4 linked regions of the Homo sapiens genome follow. The protein of the gene in region 1 purifies or fractionates together with the protein of each later gene. This does not show direct contact. Each region holds a gene or a part of one and is shown in the gene's direction. Other genes may lie near its edges. The genes, in order: MAP3K11, POGLUT2, NCS1 and NCALD.

Region 1 (4,255 bases):
AGCTGCTCTCAGAAGAGTCCTGTTCAGCAAGCCGTTTAAACTCACTCCTCCCATCCCACCCAGCCCATCGCCTCTTCCATTCCCTGAGCTACACTTGATAGTTGTAACAACAGCTAACCTTTGTTGGTTCTCTTCTATGTGCCAAGCAGTTCTGTGAGGGGAGTAGTAGTATTGGCCTGCATTTTACAACAGAGAAAACTGAGGCACAGAGAGATTAAGTGGTTTGATGTAAGGCAACCAGTAGAGCAGGGATTTGATCTGCTCTTGCCTGTCTGACCACAGAGGCAGAGCCCTGGGCCTCCATCTGCCCCGCCATTTGCTACTCCAGCAGCTGCACTGCCCCCAGCATCTGTCCTGCAGGGACTGAACTGAGAGCTGGAAGGCCAAGGAGGCTTCTTGAATTCACTTGCTCTAAATTGTACCAGGCCAGATGGGCCAAAGGAGAACTTGAGAGCCTGTCAACCCAGGTGTGTAGGCTGAAGCAGGTCCTGACTGTTCCACAGAACTCTCTGGCCCTCAGCTCCCAGAAGCAGGGGCACAAGGGGCCTGGGCCCCATCGTTCTCAAGCTTGCCCCATGTTTTTTTATCCAAAGAATTTGTTAATTATTTATGAAGAGAAACTACTTATTAGCCCATATATTCATGAATAGTTCAGATCAGTGACAAACTTCTAAGTAATTCAACCCAAAGAAATTCTTCATATTCCAAAATCACTTTGCATTCTGAGAGATAGCAGCCTTCCTCATCTCCTCGAAGTATTTCATGGCATCATAACTTCTGTAGACATCTGTGCCCATAGAAATCTGAAATGCCTTCTTTCTTGGTCCAGCCCCTGCAAACTGAGAGAGCCGCAGCCCCCAGGGATACAGTGAATGCTCCCACAATATGAAATTGCAGATGTGTGGCCAGAAGGCCACATGTCTGAGGTTTCATGAAAGCACTGGAAACCATGGTAGTTACTGTTCTTGATAAGTATGTCGGCCTCAACACCAGTGCCCTTCCTGGCTGATGAAGAAATGGATTGCCACTTGCCCTGAAAGGATGTCAGCTGCCCAGCTCAGTGGCTGGCTGAGCATCTGGTTCCCCTAGCCCAATCCCACACTCCACGCATCATCTGGGTCCATGAAAGTACATGACATTGACCTCACAGCCACCCCCCGAAACCCAGCTAAGAATCAAATAATGGGGCTTCACAGAGGTCCCAGACCCTGTGAGATGGTCCCCGGCATAAGCCATACCACTGGAGAGTCACACACACCCTCACCCTGTCCCCAGTGGGCTGTTCTGGTCCCTGGAGAGCTGGCTGCAAGGAGTGGCACATTGGCAGGGTGCACTCAGCTACGCTGATAGCAACTGCCCTGTGAAGCTTGTTGCCTTAGAGCCAATAACTACGTGGCTGTGTCCTCCCTGTGAGACCTCACGGAAGCAGTTTCGCCTCTATCTATCTATCTTTGGGTCAAGAATAGTCACGCAGCTTTCTCCTAAACAACAGAGTTGCTAACTCTTGCTGCCAGGAAGCTTAGAGGCAGATTCAAATCCTAGCTGGATTATGTTGACCAAGTCCCTTACCCTTCAGAACCTCAGTTTCTCAGGCCATTGACTGCAGGAACTTCTGTTCACTCTCATTTTGTCTGCTGGACCCTATCTTCTCTTCCCTTTGTCTCATTTCTGTCTTTTATTTTTTTAAAGATAGAGTCTCATTCTGTTACCCAGGCTGGACTGCAATGGCATGATCATGGCTCACTGCAAACTCTGCCTCCCAGGCTCAAGTGATCCTCCCACCTCAGCTTCCTGAGTAGCAGGGACTACAGGTGCATGCCATGCTTGGCTAATTTTTATATTTTTTGTAGAGATGGGGTTTTGCCATGTTGCCCAGGCTGGGCTGCGCTTAAGTAGTCCACCCACCCCAGCCTCCCAAAGTGCTGGCATTACAGGTGTGAGCCACCACACCCAGCTTGCTCTTGCTATTTTCTTTTTTTTTTTTTAGAAGGAGTCTTGTTCTGTCACCCAGGCTGGAGTGCAGTGGTGCGACCTCAGCTCACTTCAGCCTCCACCTCCCACGTTCAAGCAATTCTCCCTCAGCCTCCCCAGTAGCTGGGATTACAGGCATGTGCCACCATGCCCAGCTAATTTTTTTTTTTTTGAGATGAAGTGTCATTCTGTTGCCCAGGCTGGAGGGCAGTGGTGCAATCTCGGCTCACTACAACCTCCACCTCCCAGGTTCAAGTGATTCTCCTGCCTCAGCCTCCCAAGTAGCAGGGATTACAGGCATGTGCCACAATGCCCGGCTAATGTTTGTATTTGTAGTAGAGATGAGGTTTCACCATGTTGACCAGGCTGGTCCCGAACTCCTGACCTCAAGTGAGCCACCTGCTTCAGCTTCCCAAAGTGCTGGGATTACAAGCGTGAACCACCATGCCCGGCCTAATTTTTGTATTTAGTAGAGACAGGGTTTGACCATGTTGGCCAGGCTAGTCATGCACTCCTGACCTCAAGTGATCTGCCCTACTTGGCCTCCCAAAGTGCTGGGATTATAGGCTTGAGCCACCACTCCCAGCCTCTCTTGCTTTTTTTTTTTTTTTTTTTGAGATGGAGTCTCACTCTGTCACCCAGGCTGGAGCGCAGTGGCGGGATCTCGGCTCACTGTAACCTCCGCCTCCTGGGTTCAAGCGATTCTCCTGCCTCAGCCTCCCAAGTAGCTGAGACTACAGGTGCGTGCCACCATGCCCTGCTAATTTTTGTATTTTTTAGTAGAGACAGGGTTTCACCATGTTGGCCAGGATGGTCTCGATTTCTTGACCTCGTGATCCGCCCACCTTGGCCTCCCAAAGTGCTGGGATTACAGGTGTGAGCCACCGCACCCGGCCAACTCTTTCTTTTTTTTAAACATGATTTCCCCTCTTCTGTTTAAACTCACTGTAAATGATCAGTTCTTCACCTGCGAAGTGGGGGTGATATGATAACCTCGTGGTTGGTGCAAGGATTATAAAAATGGATTCTTCATCAAACAAGAATTTGCTTTTTTTTTTTTTTGAGACGGAGTCTCGCTCTGTTGCCCAGGCTGGAGTGCAGTGGTGTGATTTTGGCTCACTGCAAGCTCCGCCTCCTGGGTTCATGCCATTCTCCTGCCTCAGCCTCTTGAGTATCTGGGACTACAGGCGCCCACCACCACGCCTGGCTAATTTTTTGTGTTTTTAGTAGAGACAGGGTTTCACCGTGTTAGCCAGGATGGTCTCGATCTCCTGACCTCGTGATCATCCCACCTGGGCCTCCCAAAGTGCTGGGATTGCAGATGTGAGCCACCGCGCCTGGCCCAGGGATTTGCATTTTAAGAGCCAGGCATCAACATGTTAAACACTGCCCTGACCTCATATGATGAAGCAGGCAGACTCATAAACAAGTCCAGTAGCACCTCTATGAGGCATAACGTGAGCAATAACTGTGTAGGTTCAGGGAGATTCTGGGAGGGCTTCACAGAGGAAGTGACATCCCAGTTGGTCTTGGATGGTGCATAAGAGGTCACTGAAAGCCAAGGTGGGAAAGGTCAGCCACCCAGAGTGAATAGTGTGTGCGCAGGCATGCAGCTCACCATACCCAAGGAAAAGGCAACCTGGCTGAACTCCGAGAAGAGTTGAGAGCCGAGGAGTCTCAGGACTGGGGCTGCGGACAGGGGCCAAGGCACATGGGTCAGTAGATGTTGATTGAATGAATGAGTGAATGAAGCTGGAAGTGATGGGTAGTTTTTAAGCAGAGACCTGTCTTTAACAGGTTTGCATTTTAGAAGGATTCCCTTGTCCCTTCAGTGGCAGTGGCCGGGGTGGGAGTTGGGTGAGGTAAGAGGCAGAGAGTCTGAGTAAGGGTTGGGGCTGACAGAAGGGACTGTGAGCTAAGTCCTGGTTCATAGTAGAAGCTCATTTTTCCCAGCCTTGTATTTCTCCCTCCCGACATCCAACCTGCTGCTGCACTCCAGGCAGGAGGGGAAAGGCAGAGGGACAAGGCCAGGGAGGGCTTCAGAGGACCAGCCAAGGAGGCCAGACTTTCTCCTAGTGACAGTGGAGAGCCACAGCAGTTTCTAGAGCCAAGGAGGGATCTGACAAAATCAGGGCTTGTGAGAGCCCATCCTAGAGTCCCTTGTCCTTAATGAGGGGTTCCCCATCCCTGCCCAAGTGGTCTAGAATGGAGTCAGGCCAACCCTAGACTGGAAGGTAGGACACTAGTGTCTTGAAATCTAGGGCAGAGTCTGGCTGGGAAATGG
Region 2 (3,371 bases), on another chromosome or scaffold:
AAGCACATGATAAATGAAGATGATGATGGAGGCTTGTGCAAGCCATGATAAGGAAAGCAGAATAGTCTCTGTCTTCACATTCTCAGTCTAGGGAAGATTGTGTGCAAAATTATTTTTACTGTGAGGCAGAAGACGGTTAAAAAAAAAAGTCATGGAAATTTAGGATAGCATAAAGAGGTGTCTGTTAGGAATAGGCAGCCAGTGTTCAAAGGATGGCCTCCTCTCAGATGCTCTACTGTTGATGTTCAGAACTGGTATATATGACGGACTATGCAGATCACAGTTTGACACACATGAGTTAAATGAATCATAGTCTTCATATATTCTAGCCTCTCTCATTGGGTGGATATAAAGTGTTTTATAAGGAATGCTTTTATATTGTTGCTTAAACAGGAATATGCCAATTTACAAGTGAGTGAGCCCCAAATCCGAGAGGGCATGAAAAGGGTAGAACCACAGACTGAGGACGACCTCTTCCCTTGTACTTGCCATAGGAAAAAGGTAACCAGAACTGAGCTTATGGCCGGTGTCAGAGTAAAAACTAACATTGATCCAAACTTGCTTTTATTCCTATAGTCATTCAATCAGGCAGCAAATATTTGAGTTCCTCTCGAGGTCTCCAAGCAATTCAGTCTGCCAGAGAGATAGGTATAAAAGATAGCAGTGCTCAAGAAAGGATGCTACAATGCAGTTAATTGAGAAGACATGGTAGCTCCCTGGCAAAGTGGGGGGAAGTCTTTTATAATGTGAGAATCCAGCTCACACCCTATTTGAATGGATGCTTACAGTCTGAAAAATATTTTCATGTGTATCATCTGATGCCCTCATCTCCTCATGAGATAAGTTTGGCAAAGTTCATCATCCCAGTTTAGAGAAGGAAAAATATGTAACCACGATTATTAATGTTTTCCAATTCTTCATTTGAAAGTCATCTCAGTTGATACCACTACATAAGGATCTCATTGATAAAAATGAAAGTCAGATTCACATCTGGACTTTTAAGGTAGAAAGGACCTTAGAAGTCATCCAGTAAATGCCTTCATTTTATGGTTAACAAAACTGAGCCCAAAAAGGAATTGTGCTCAAAATCATCTAGCTGGATTATAGCAAAGCAAAAACCAATCTCTCATCATCAGATTGTGATTGTGTGTGCTTGTATATAAAGCTATAGTGTGGCAGGGGACTGTTGCTTTGATTATGATTTTTGTTTGTTTGAAGGAATGTAAATTGCATAAACTAGAGTGTGTGTGTGTGTGTGTGTGTGTGTGTGTGTGTGTGTGTAACATATGCTGACTTAACATTTTAGGCAACATAATTAGGTTTCTGAATGGACAAGTTCAAAATTGTGGTATTATAACCAAAGACAAGAAGGCAGATTTGGCAATTATTATGTCTACCTCTCAAGGAGGTGTAAAAGGAATTAAGGTGAGGCTGGCCCCAGTGATGTGACAGAACCAGCTTATATGAGCTCACTGATAAATATTCAGGAATTTTGCATACTAGTTAAATTTTTGGTAGCTTGGAATCATCCTGATAGGAGTATTTACACCATGACAATCAGCACATGCTACAAATCAGAATTTTGGCTGTTTTATTTTTGTCTTTGTTTTTTATAGAACTCATTAACCACTAACCAACTGGCCCTCAGAGGTGGTTCGTCATCATTGTGAACTCTGTCAGTGCTCCAAGGCCATAAAAATCAGTTAAAACCAATGATAAAACAAGAATTGCCAAATCGAAAGGTTCCCCCTCACCAATCCGTGATTTGGTATCAGAACACTTCTCACTTTGGCTCTAAGTGAGACTGGCAGCTTCCTTGCTCCACTCCTGCTCAGTTATTTATCTTCATCTACGTGATTGAGAGGAGGTACCCAGCCAGTTTCTTCCACTGAGTAGTAGAAGTTAGGGGCCAGAATGATAGCTTCGTTTATTTTTTGCTCATTGTCTATCCTAGTCTTTCACCACTACTGTTCATAACATGAGGCCTTTACAGTAGTACAGCCCATGGATGTTTGGGTTCCTTATCAGTAGGCTATGAAACACAATGTGATTTTACCCTTAGCTGACTCTGGGCCTCTGGAAATAGTCCCAAGCCCTAAAAGCCTCTAGCAGCAGCTTGGCTCCCTCTCATCTTTACAGGAAAATAATTAACGAATGTAAGTCTTCTTCACTTGTGTAAGACTTCTTGATAGCTCTAAATATTTTGCTTCTTAATTGCAGACCAAAGATGAACTCTGATATGCAAAATAACTTCTATTAGAATAATGGTGCTCTGAAGACTCTTCTTAACTAAAAAGAAGAATTTTTTTAAGTATTAATTCCATGGACAATATAAAATCTGTGTGATTGTTTGCAGTATGAAGACACATTTCTACTTATGCAGTATTCTCATGACTGTACTTTAAAGTACATTTTTAGAATTTTATAATAAAACCACCTTTATTTTAAAGGACTACGTTGTGCTAATTATTAGCCGTGTTTGGAACAGAGAGCAGTAAAAACAGAGAGAATCTGGGTCCTTAATGCACAGCAGCCCAGACCACCTGCCCAGACTGGTTTTAAATGACAAAGCAATGAACCCCTGTCTCCTTTTAAGCCCATATTATTGTGGGTATTCAGCCAAACTTAATTCTAGCTAATACTTCGTACAAGGCCAGTCATTAGATGGCCTCTACCTGCATCTTTAGTCAAATCTCTCAGCACTTTCTAGTATCAATACTGTCCTCTGGAAGAACGAGTCCTCTCCCAGTTCTGTCAATGCCTGTGTCCTTACCTTCCTGGCTCTTGCCTTTCCCTTGTCCTGGAATGTCTTGGCCCTCTTTTCTTCAACCGGCTTACACATCCTTCAGCACATATTTTATCCTTACTAGATTTTAAGTGCCATGACCTCAGAGACCAGGCCTTTCTTCTGGGTAGTCCTAACGTCTAATAGAGTGCCAGCAACTAGAAAGACTGAATAAATATCTAATGGGTGATATGGTTTTGATGTTTGTCCCTTCCAAATCTTATGTTGAAATGTAATTCTGAGTGGTGGAGGTGGGGCCCGGTGGGAGATGTTTGTATCTTAGGGGTGGATCCCTCATGAATGGCCTGGCACCATCCTTGCAGTGACAAGTGAGTTCTCACTGTGAGTTCACATGATCTGGTGGTTTTAAAAGGTGTGGCACCTCCCCCTCTCTCTGTGTTGCTCCCTCTCTTGCCACCTGATACCCTGGCTCCACTTTGCCTTCCACCATGATTGGAAGCTTCCTGAAGCCCTCTCCAGAAGCAGATGCTGGCACCACACTTCCTATACAGCCTGCAGAACGATGAACCAAAATAAATCTCTTTTCTTTAGAAATTACCCAGCCTCAGGTATTTCTTTATAGCAA
Region 3 (4,273 bases), on another chromosome or scaffold:
TGGGCACTGGGACTGCAGGGTGGACAAGTCCAGTTGGAACAGCCAGGATCCCCCCATGCTGTTTACCCAGTTCCCTGGGAACAGAGACTGAGGGGCAGGGTGTGGGCATGTGGGAGGAGCCACCTGCTGGCTCCATATGGTGGTCTACCCACCAGCACCAGCAGCAGCCCACCCAGCCTGATGCCAGGAGGGGCTCAGCAGAGAAGGTGGGGAGGTGGGAGGGTCTTGTGCAGGCATGCGGCTTTGGGGAGGCCATTCATGTGACTCTTGTTTTAGCCCCCTTGGGTGGAGCACAGGGCTGGGTGGCCAAGTGCTCACTCTGTGTGCAGTATCTGGGTTAATTCCTATGTCAGTTCGTAACCCCCTTATGCAGACGAGGCTAGGAGAGGTGAAGTCTGTATCCAAGGTCACACTGCTAGTGAGAGGCAGAGGTGGGACTGCGCCTGTGCCTATCAAGTCCATGGCCCCATGGGGCACCATCTCTTTGAACAAGGAGCCACAGCTTTCCTGGGCCCCGGGCAGGCGATGTTGGTGGTGGGTGGGTGATGTTGGCGTCTCCTTTACCCTCTCTGGCCCGGTCTGCTGCCTCCAGGTACAAAGGCTTCATCAAGGACTGCCCCAGTGGGCAGCTGGATGCGGCAGGCTTCCAGAAGATCTACAAGCAATTCTTCCCGTTCGGAGACCCCACCAAGTTTGCCACATTTGTTTTCAACGTCTTTGATGAAAACAAGGTGAGCTGGGGATTGATGGGGCCTGCGGCAGCTGGCTCAGCTCCTGTGGGTACCCGCAGCGTCTCCACACCCACTCTCTCCTGCCGATGTTCCCTTCTAGAGAAGGAACACACACACGAGTGCATACTGACATGCACAGATACATAGTCGCACATAAATGCATGCACATGTACACATGCAGACACACAATAAACACAGATGCATCCAAATGCATGCACATGTGTGCACACATATGTACACCCACACATGTACTGACATGCACATCCAAGCTCTCACACAGACGTGTATGTGCACATGCAGGCGAATACCATGCACACATGTGGGCACACATACATGGAGATGCAGCCACACACGTGAACATACATGTATATTCATACAGTGCACAGAAATGCACACATATGCACACAATGCATGGACTTGCAGGTGCACACACGTGTACACACAGAGAGACATATACACATATGCATATGTATACAGTGCACAACACACATGCATGTATACACATGTACACCCTGACACTTCTCTTACAAGCATAAAATGCAAATACCTCCCATGATAATAACAGGATTAATAATAATAACCAATATTTCCTGAACATTTACTATGTTTAAGCTCTTTACATGGATTTTTTTTTTTTTTGAGACAGAGTCTTGCTCTGTTGCCGAGGCTGGAGTGCAGTGGTGCAGTCTCAATTCACTGCAACCTCTGCCTCCCAGATTCAAGCAATTCCCCTGCCTCAGCCTCCTGAGAAGCTGGGATTACAGGCGCCGTCACCACACCTGGCTAATTTTTGTATTTTTAGTAGAGATGGGGTTTCACCGTATTGCCCAGGCTGGTCTTGAACTCCTGACCTCAGATGATCCACCCACCTTGGTCTCCCAAAGTGCTGGGATTTCAGGTGTAAGCCCCCTTGCCCGGCCATACATGGATTATTTTTAATGAGGCCTTACAAGCACCTGGGAGCTGGGTATTTTAATACCCATTTTGTAGGTCAGGAAACTGAGGCTCTGAGAATCGTAGGCTATAGGATCTTTTGTTCCTGGCGTTTTCCACTGAGCATCATGTTTTCAAGACTTACCATGTGGTAGCTTGTGTCACCTCCGGGCAGTGGCTGCACGGATAGCTGTTGGGTTATCTGCGATGACCCTGATTCTGTCCTGCAGTAGCATTTGAGGGTGGATTTACTGCCACTTGTCTCTGTACCCCCTGCTGCTGGCACCGTGGAGGTTTCTATTCTATCCCATCCCCAGCTTCTCCCAGGTGCCCCCAGGCTGGGAGTCACATGCCTGACCCTGGGAAGGGCTCTTCCCTTCTTGGGCCTCGGTTTCTTCATTTGCAAATAAGAGGTGGAATTAAACAACCTGCAGCGGCCTTTCCTCTGCAAAAGCCCATGAGCCCACAGCTCTAGGCCGAGGGGCTTCCGGGCTGTTGCTGAGAGGAGCTCAGGCATTGGTGCTTCTGGCACCTTCTCCCATCAAGAGTGGAGTAAGCCTCTCCGTTCAGCCTCAGTCCTTCTTCCTGTGCCTCCCTCCTGGCCTCTCCCACTTCTAACCCCCCACACAGTCCCCCAGCCTCTGCTCCCCACCCTCTCCTTGCCTCTCGCCCCCCATTCCTTCGAGCCTGCCCTCTCCACCTGAGTGTCCATTGGCCACAGTGTCTGGAGCCTGCGACTGCCCCTCGCCCGTCCCGAGGTTCAGCCTGACCCGGTGGCCTGGCCGGCACTGACTGAGGCAATCCCCTCTCTCTCCTGTCAGGACGGGCGAATTGAGTTCTCCGAGTTCATCCAGGCGCTGTCGGTGACCTCACGGGGAACCCTGGATGAGAAGCTACGGTGTAAGTCCTGCCCCCTTGGCCCTGTGTGGCAGCAGCTGGAGGGCCCAGGTCAGAGGGAGGCAGCCCTCGGCCCTCACCAGGCAGGGGTGCCAGACACCCACTGCAGTGACCACAGATGGCGTCCCAGCTGTGTCTGCAGAGGGCAGGCCTGGGCCCTGGGCAGGTGGCCCTCACACGGCCACGTAACTAGGCCAGGCTGACTGTCCAGGGTTCAGAGAGCAGCGCAGACATCTGTGCTTCCAGGTGGGAGGGTTTCCTGGAGGCACCGGCAGCAGGAAGGAGCTCGCTGAGGCAGGTGGACAGGGAGGGCTGGGGGCAGAGGCTGGCAGGAGCCTTGGCTGCACTCGGGCAGGTGCAGACTTGGGCCGCAGGAGGGTCGGTGGGGACCCAAGACCCAGGTTCAGTGCCGGACCCACCTCTTTCATAGCCATTGCTTTGATTCTTGCTTTCAGTCATTCACTTACTCACTCATTCATTGACCAAATAACGACTGAATGCAGCCACGTGTTGGTACCAGGGATCCACTGGGGGATAAGATAGATGGGTCCCTGCTCTCAGGGCGATCAGTCTAGAGTGGCAGCAGGATTTAAAAAAAAACCTCAGGAAACTGCAGGCAAGGAGGAGAGAGGGAGTTGTGAGCAGGAGAGGACCTGCCTGGTAGGCGCAGAGCTGGGGATGAGAGGAGCTGGGGATGAGAGGAGCTGGGGAGGGGGCGTTAAGGGCTCCAGCCAGGGGGCCCGCGTGTGCGAGGCCCAGTGGAGGGAGGCTGAGAGGGAGTTGGGAGGGGAAGCTGTGCAGGCCCCTGGCGGCATTAGGAGGAATGCAGGGTGCGTGGAGGGGAGGGAAGATGGAAACCAGCTGGCCAGAACTCCCTGCTCAGTAAGACTTTCACACTTCAGTCCATCGGCAGCAAGAAGACCCTGCAGTTTCTTTTTCTTTTTCTTTCTTTCTTTTTTTTTTTTTTAAGAAATAAAAGAGAACTTTATTTATGCAAAAGCTCCTCCTCTCAATGCACTATTTTATTTTCTAATGTTGACTGTAGCAGGCCACACCATAATTGTGGGAGCAGAGTGGACTGTGGGGAGGAGGTGGGGGCTGGAGTTGGGGGAAGGAGAGGGGTGCTCCTCTGGGTAACATCCCAGGCCCCGGGCTCTCCCACGCACTCAGCTCCAGCCACTGATACCTCGGCCCTGGCAGCCCAATGCCCCATCCCTTTATTTTATTTGTTTATTTATTTATAGACAGAGTCTCGCTCTGTTGCTCAGGCTGGAGTGCAGTGGCACAATCTCGGCCCACTACAATCTCTGCCTCCTGGGTTCAAGCAATTCTCCTGCTTCAGCCTCCCAAGTAGCTGGGATTACAGGCATGTGCCACCACACCTGGCTAATTTTTGTGTTTTTAGTAGAAATGGGGTTTCGCCATGTTGGCCAGGCTGGTCTCGAACTCCTGACCTCAGATGATCCACCCACCTTGGCCTTCCAAAGTGCTGGAATTACAGGTGTGAGCCACCGTGCCTGGCCCTGTTATTTTTAATATATATATATATAAAATATTTAATATATATATAAAATATCATATATATATATATATATATATATATATATATATATAGAGAGAGAGAGAGAGAGAGAGAGAGAGAGAGAGAGAGAAAGAGAGAGTCTTGCTCTGTCACCCAGGCTAGAGTGCAGTAGTTCGATCTCGGCTTATTG
Region 4 (4,273 bases), on another chromosome or scaffold:
GTTAGGGAGGAGTCCTTCCTTTTCAATTGTTTGGGATAGTTTCAGAAGGAATCGTACCAGCTCCCCTTTGTATCTCTGGTAGAATTTGGCTGTGAATCCATCTGGTCCTGGGCTTTTTTAGGTTGGTAGGCTATTAATTACTGCCTCAATTTCAGAACTTGTTATTGGTCTATTCAGGGATTTAACTTCTTTCTGGTTTAGTCTTGGGAGGGTGTATGTGTCCAGGAATTTATACATTTCTTCTAGATTTTCCCGTTTATTTGCATAGAGATGTTTATAGTATTCTCTGATGATAGTTTATATTTCTGTGGTGTCGGTGGTGATATACCCTTTATCATTTTTTATTGTGTCTATTTGATTATTCTCTCTTTTCTTCTTTATTAGTCTAGCTAGTGGTCTATTTTGTTAATTTTTTCAAAAAAACAGCTCCTGGATTCATTGATTTTTGAAGGGTTTTTTGTGTCTCTGTTTCCTTCTGTTCTGCTCTAATCTTAGTTATTTCTTCTCTTCTGCTAGCTTTTGGATTTGTTTGCTCTTGCTTCCCTAGCTCTTTTAATTGTGATGTTAGAGTGGCGATTTGAGATCCTTCTAGCTTTCTGATGTGGGCATTTAGTGCTATAAATTTCCCTCTTAACACAGCTTTAGCTGTCTCCCAGAGATTCTGGTATGTTGCAAATGACTACTTTTCAATTCTCTGAACACCACTGACTGCAAGTAAGGAAGGGAAGAGAGGTAAATTTGGGAAATGAATGTGAATAGGAAAATCAAATTTAATGTCACTTCCATCTTTTGTTGCTCGTTGGAGAAATACAGATCCCTAAACACTGTGAGGCCTCAGTGGTCTTTCCCTGCTTGCTCTAGAGCCACATTGTGTACTGAACGCCCCCACACTCTGTTGACCTCCTTGCCACGCTCCCACTCTGGGCTTCCACATGGTGTTTTGCTCACCCCTGATTTATTTAAGCCCTATGCTTTCTTCACGTCTTTGTGCAATCATCATTCCTCAGAGAAGCCTACCCTAACCCTCCTGGCAAAACCTAACTCTCCCACTATATCATCACAGAAGCCATGCACTCTTCTTTCTAGCACTTTTCTCAACAATGGTTTTACATGTATTTCTTTATTTTACTAATGTCTGCCTTATTTCACAGCAAAAACCATGAGGGAAAGGATTAGGTCAATGTCAATACCTGGTACACATTAGTTGCTTATACATATTTGATGAATGACTGAGTGAGTGGATGGATGAAGAGGCAGTCACCTAAGAGCAGGGATTTCCATGACCTGGGGTCTATGGATCAGCTTCTAAATACCCAAACCTCTGAGATCGTCTGCAATGGTGGGTGGGTTTGCATGGTTTCTAAGGGAAAAGCTCAAATCTTTTGACAGATTAAGTCTTTAAGGGGTTTCACATGAATATGTTTAATTATGTGAAGAGAGAGAGAAGAAAAAGAAAAGAGGAAACTAAAAAAAACATATAAAAGGATAAAGGGGAACTTTATAAATTGGAGCAGTGCAGAATAAAGGTGAGAGAGGGAAAGAATGAGAGGGCAACTGGGGGACAGTTATTCCTGAATAAATTCTTTAAACTAAGTGAAGTTGACTGTATTCAAGACCCTATGTTAGGTACTATCAGGGATTCAAAAAATAGATGTGACTGCTACCCTCACATCTAAAAGGAGAACATTCTGGGTGTGAATTCAAGGTAAATGGAAGGAAGTGATATGAGAGAGGTTGGGTTGGAGCCCCTTGCTAGCACAGAGGGAGGGAGATTGCACATAGCAATAGAAGAAGGGAAGATGATGGAAGGCTTCCTGGAGGAGGGTAACATTTTGATCTGCTCTTAACACATGGGTAAGAGTCCAAGGAGGAGGGGAGATGGGGTAGGTGAGCACTCAGGTGAGAGAAGAATATAAACAAAGCTGCTGGTCCAGGACACCAAGGAGCGTATCATGTTGTCAGACTCTTGACAACAGCCTTTGTGGAGCATCTGAGCTGGGAGACACCTCCTATGGCCAGTCACAGGCACAAAGCCAGTGGCATCTAGAAGGACCACGTGAGACAAACTTACTGAGGCCAGAACAGACTTGGAGAAGGAACAATCCAGCCCCAAAGAAGATTGATAATGAATAAATACACAGCCCCCTTAAAACTTCTGGCAAAAATAAACTTATCCCTTGTCTGTAAGTGCTCTTCCCCGCAACACCTCTGCAACTCCTGAAACAGCTCCATGCGCTCTCCTTTAAGGAGGTTGTGCTAATGTGATCTGCAGGGATGCCAATTTCTAAATGTTGTGTTATTGTTGTCCTAAGATTCCTGGGCTTATGAATTCACCAAATATTTAGATCATATGAGCTTGAAATGTATGTGAGGGGTGTGCATGTTTTCATAGTTGGTGCCGATTCCATTTTGACTATGTCAAGAGTTACGAAAAGCTTCCACTGTGGGAGCAAAGCAAGCTGGGGAGAGGTTGCTAGACCTCAAGACTTTTGCTGGTGTGAAAAGACACCTGCTGTCTACTGTTACTAAATATTCACCTGGGCGTGTTAAATCTCAGGGCCTCTCTTCTCCCATTTGCAAAAACAGCTCCATCTCTCCGGCCTTTCCTAGCTCCCCCAAGAACTTACGTGTCCCCGGCAGTGAGGCACATGGCACTACAGCCCCAGCACAGTTGGTGGAGCAGACCTGGGCTGGGATGACAGCAGGCAGGGGACCATGATGAGGAGGGCAGACGATGGCTCCCCTCTTGTCTCCAGAGCACACTTCAGTGAGCATTTCTTGGGAATGAAATGGCTCAGCTTACCCCAGGGACACCCATAATCCTAGACAGCACCCTAACTCTGCGCTTTACCTCCCAGACCAAGTCGCTGCAGAGTCAGCTATGGAGTTCAGTAAGCACATTGGGTGGGTTTGAGACAGACTCAGGGAGCCTGTCCAGAAGCATCCCTGAGGGATGGGATCAGCCTAAGGGCCAGCACACTGGGTGAGTCTGTTTTCATTCTTATTTTGACTGAGATTAGAGTACTTACCCTACCTTATCCAGAACATGTTAGGAACTTCTGGCAGGGTTGGTCCTGAGCAAGACTGTAAAGCAGCTCAGGTGAAGCTTCAGTGTCTTTTTCTGCTCTCACCTTTCCCATTTGGAGGCGACTCCCCTCAGCTGCTTTCCTTTCTCTGTCCTCTGCACCTGCCTTGCTGCCCCTAGAGCTCCAGAACTCTCTGAAATTTTCTGCCTACTCCCTGGCAAAATCTATTTTTTCTAAAAATTGTCCCCAGGGCCAAGATGCCCAAAGTGACTCTGATTAGCAAAGTCATGATCTGGGGATAAAAACAATGACTTTTCATTCCTCTTCCCAAATAAAAACTACCTTTGACCACAGAGGTCAAAGGGCCCTTACTGAGTCCCATGTGGAGGTCACAGGCATGGGGTGATAGTTTCAGTAGTGCTTACAAAACTCCACAGAATCCTCTTTCGCCCATCAGATCTCATAGCTGTACCCAGTTTAGCTCAGGCCTGAGGATGCATAATAATTCAGAGCTCTGATGGCAGGTGGTTTCCATCTCAGGACTGCCTGGAAGCTTGCTGAGAAGGAACTTGAGACCATTGTCACACACAGGGAGAAAAGCACTGGAATGGACTAGAAGTCTGCCTGGGGAAACATGTGGCATGCACTTACAGAGTGTTACATGTCTGTCATCCTTGAGGAGTCATTGTGGACTCTCAAGGGTCCATGATAGGCATCCACTTGCCTCTCTAGCCTGAAGAATGTCATCTGCAGCCTTGCTCCTCAAAGTGGGAACCTTGCTTTTCAAAGCAGCGTCTTCAGAACAGCAGCATCAGCATCACACCGGAGCTTATTAAAAATACAGACTCTCAGCCCCACCCCTTTCCCCCACACTACCCAATCAGATTCTGCATTTTAACAAGATTCCCAGGGGATTTGTATGCACATAAACAATGGAGACGGCTAGGAGAGGTGGCGCATGTCTGTAATCCCAGCACTTTGGGAGGCTGAGGGAGGAGAAGCTTGAGCCCAGGAGTTCGAGACCAGCTTGGGCAACATAATGAGACCTTGTCTGTACAGAAAAAAAAAAAAAAAAAAAAAAAAAAAAAAAAACGCCCTGTGTGGTGGGGAGTACCTCTAGTCCCAGCTGCTGCTCAGGAGACTGAGGTGGGAGGATTGCTTGAGCCTATGAAATGGAGCCTGCAGTGAGCCGTAAGCGTGCCACTACACTCCAGCCTGGGTGACAGAATGAGACCCTGTCTCAAAAA

What was found.
Region 2: the proteins of MAP3K11 (region 1) and POGLUT2 purify together in Homo sapiens (affinity purification with mass spectrometry, with the first as the bait; one large-scale study listed by BioGRID). This does not show direct contact.
Region 3: the proteins of MAP3K11 (region 1) and NCS1 purify together in Homo sapiens (affinity purification with mass spectrometry, with the first as the bait; one large-scale study listed by BioGRID). This does not show direct contact.
Region 4: the proteins of MAP3K11 (region 1) and NCALD purify together in Homo sapiens (affinity purification with mass spectrometry, with the first as the bait; one large-scale study listed by BioGRID). This does not show direct contact.

What each region holds. Positions count from the first base shown.
Region 1 is NC_000011.10:65,600,534-65,604,788, reverse strand, and holds part of MAP3K11 (mitogen-activated protein kinase kinase kinase 11), read left to right. Parts: intron 1-4,255. UniProt on the Homo sapiens protein: Activates the JUN N-terminal pathway. Required for serum-stimulated cell proliferation and for mitogen and cytokine activation of MAPK14 (p38), MAPK3 (ERK) and MAPK8 (JNK1) through phosphorylation and activation of MAP2K4/MKK4 and MAP2K7/MKK7.
Region 2 is NC_000013.11:102,783,362-102,786,732, reverse strand, and holds the end of POGLUT2 (protein O-glucosyltransferase 2 isoform 1 precursor), read left to right. Parts: intron 1-393; coding exon 394-501; intron 502-2,220; coding exon 2,221-2,238; 3' UTR 2,239-2,452; downstream 2,453-3,371. UniProt on the Homo sapiens protein: Protein glucosyltransferase that catalyzes the transfer of glucose from UDP-glucose to a serine residue within the consensus sequence peptide C-X-N-T-X-G-S-F-X-C. Can also catalyze the transfer of xylose from UDP-xylose but less efficiently.
Region 3 is NC_000009.12:130,217,240-130,221,512, forward strand, and holds part of NCS1 (neuronal calcium sensor 1), read left to right. Parts: intron 1-592; coding exon 593-731; intron 732-2,485; coding exon 2,486-2,564; intron 2,565-4,273. UniProt on the Homo sapiens protein: Neuronal calcium sensor, regulator of G protein-coupled receptor phosphorylation in a calcium dependent manner. Directly regulates GRK1 (RHOK), but not GRK2 to GRK5. Can substitute for calmodulin. Stimulates PI4KB kinase activity.
Region 4 is NC_000008.11:101,693,164-101,697,436, reverse strand, and holds part of NCALD (neurocalcin-delta), read left to right. Parts: intron 1-4,273. UniProt on the Homo sapiens protein: May be involved in the calcium-dependent regulation of rhodopsin phosphorylation. Binds three calcium ions.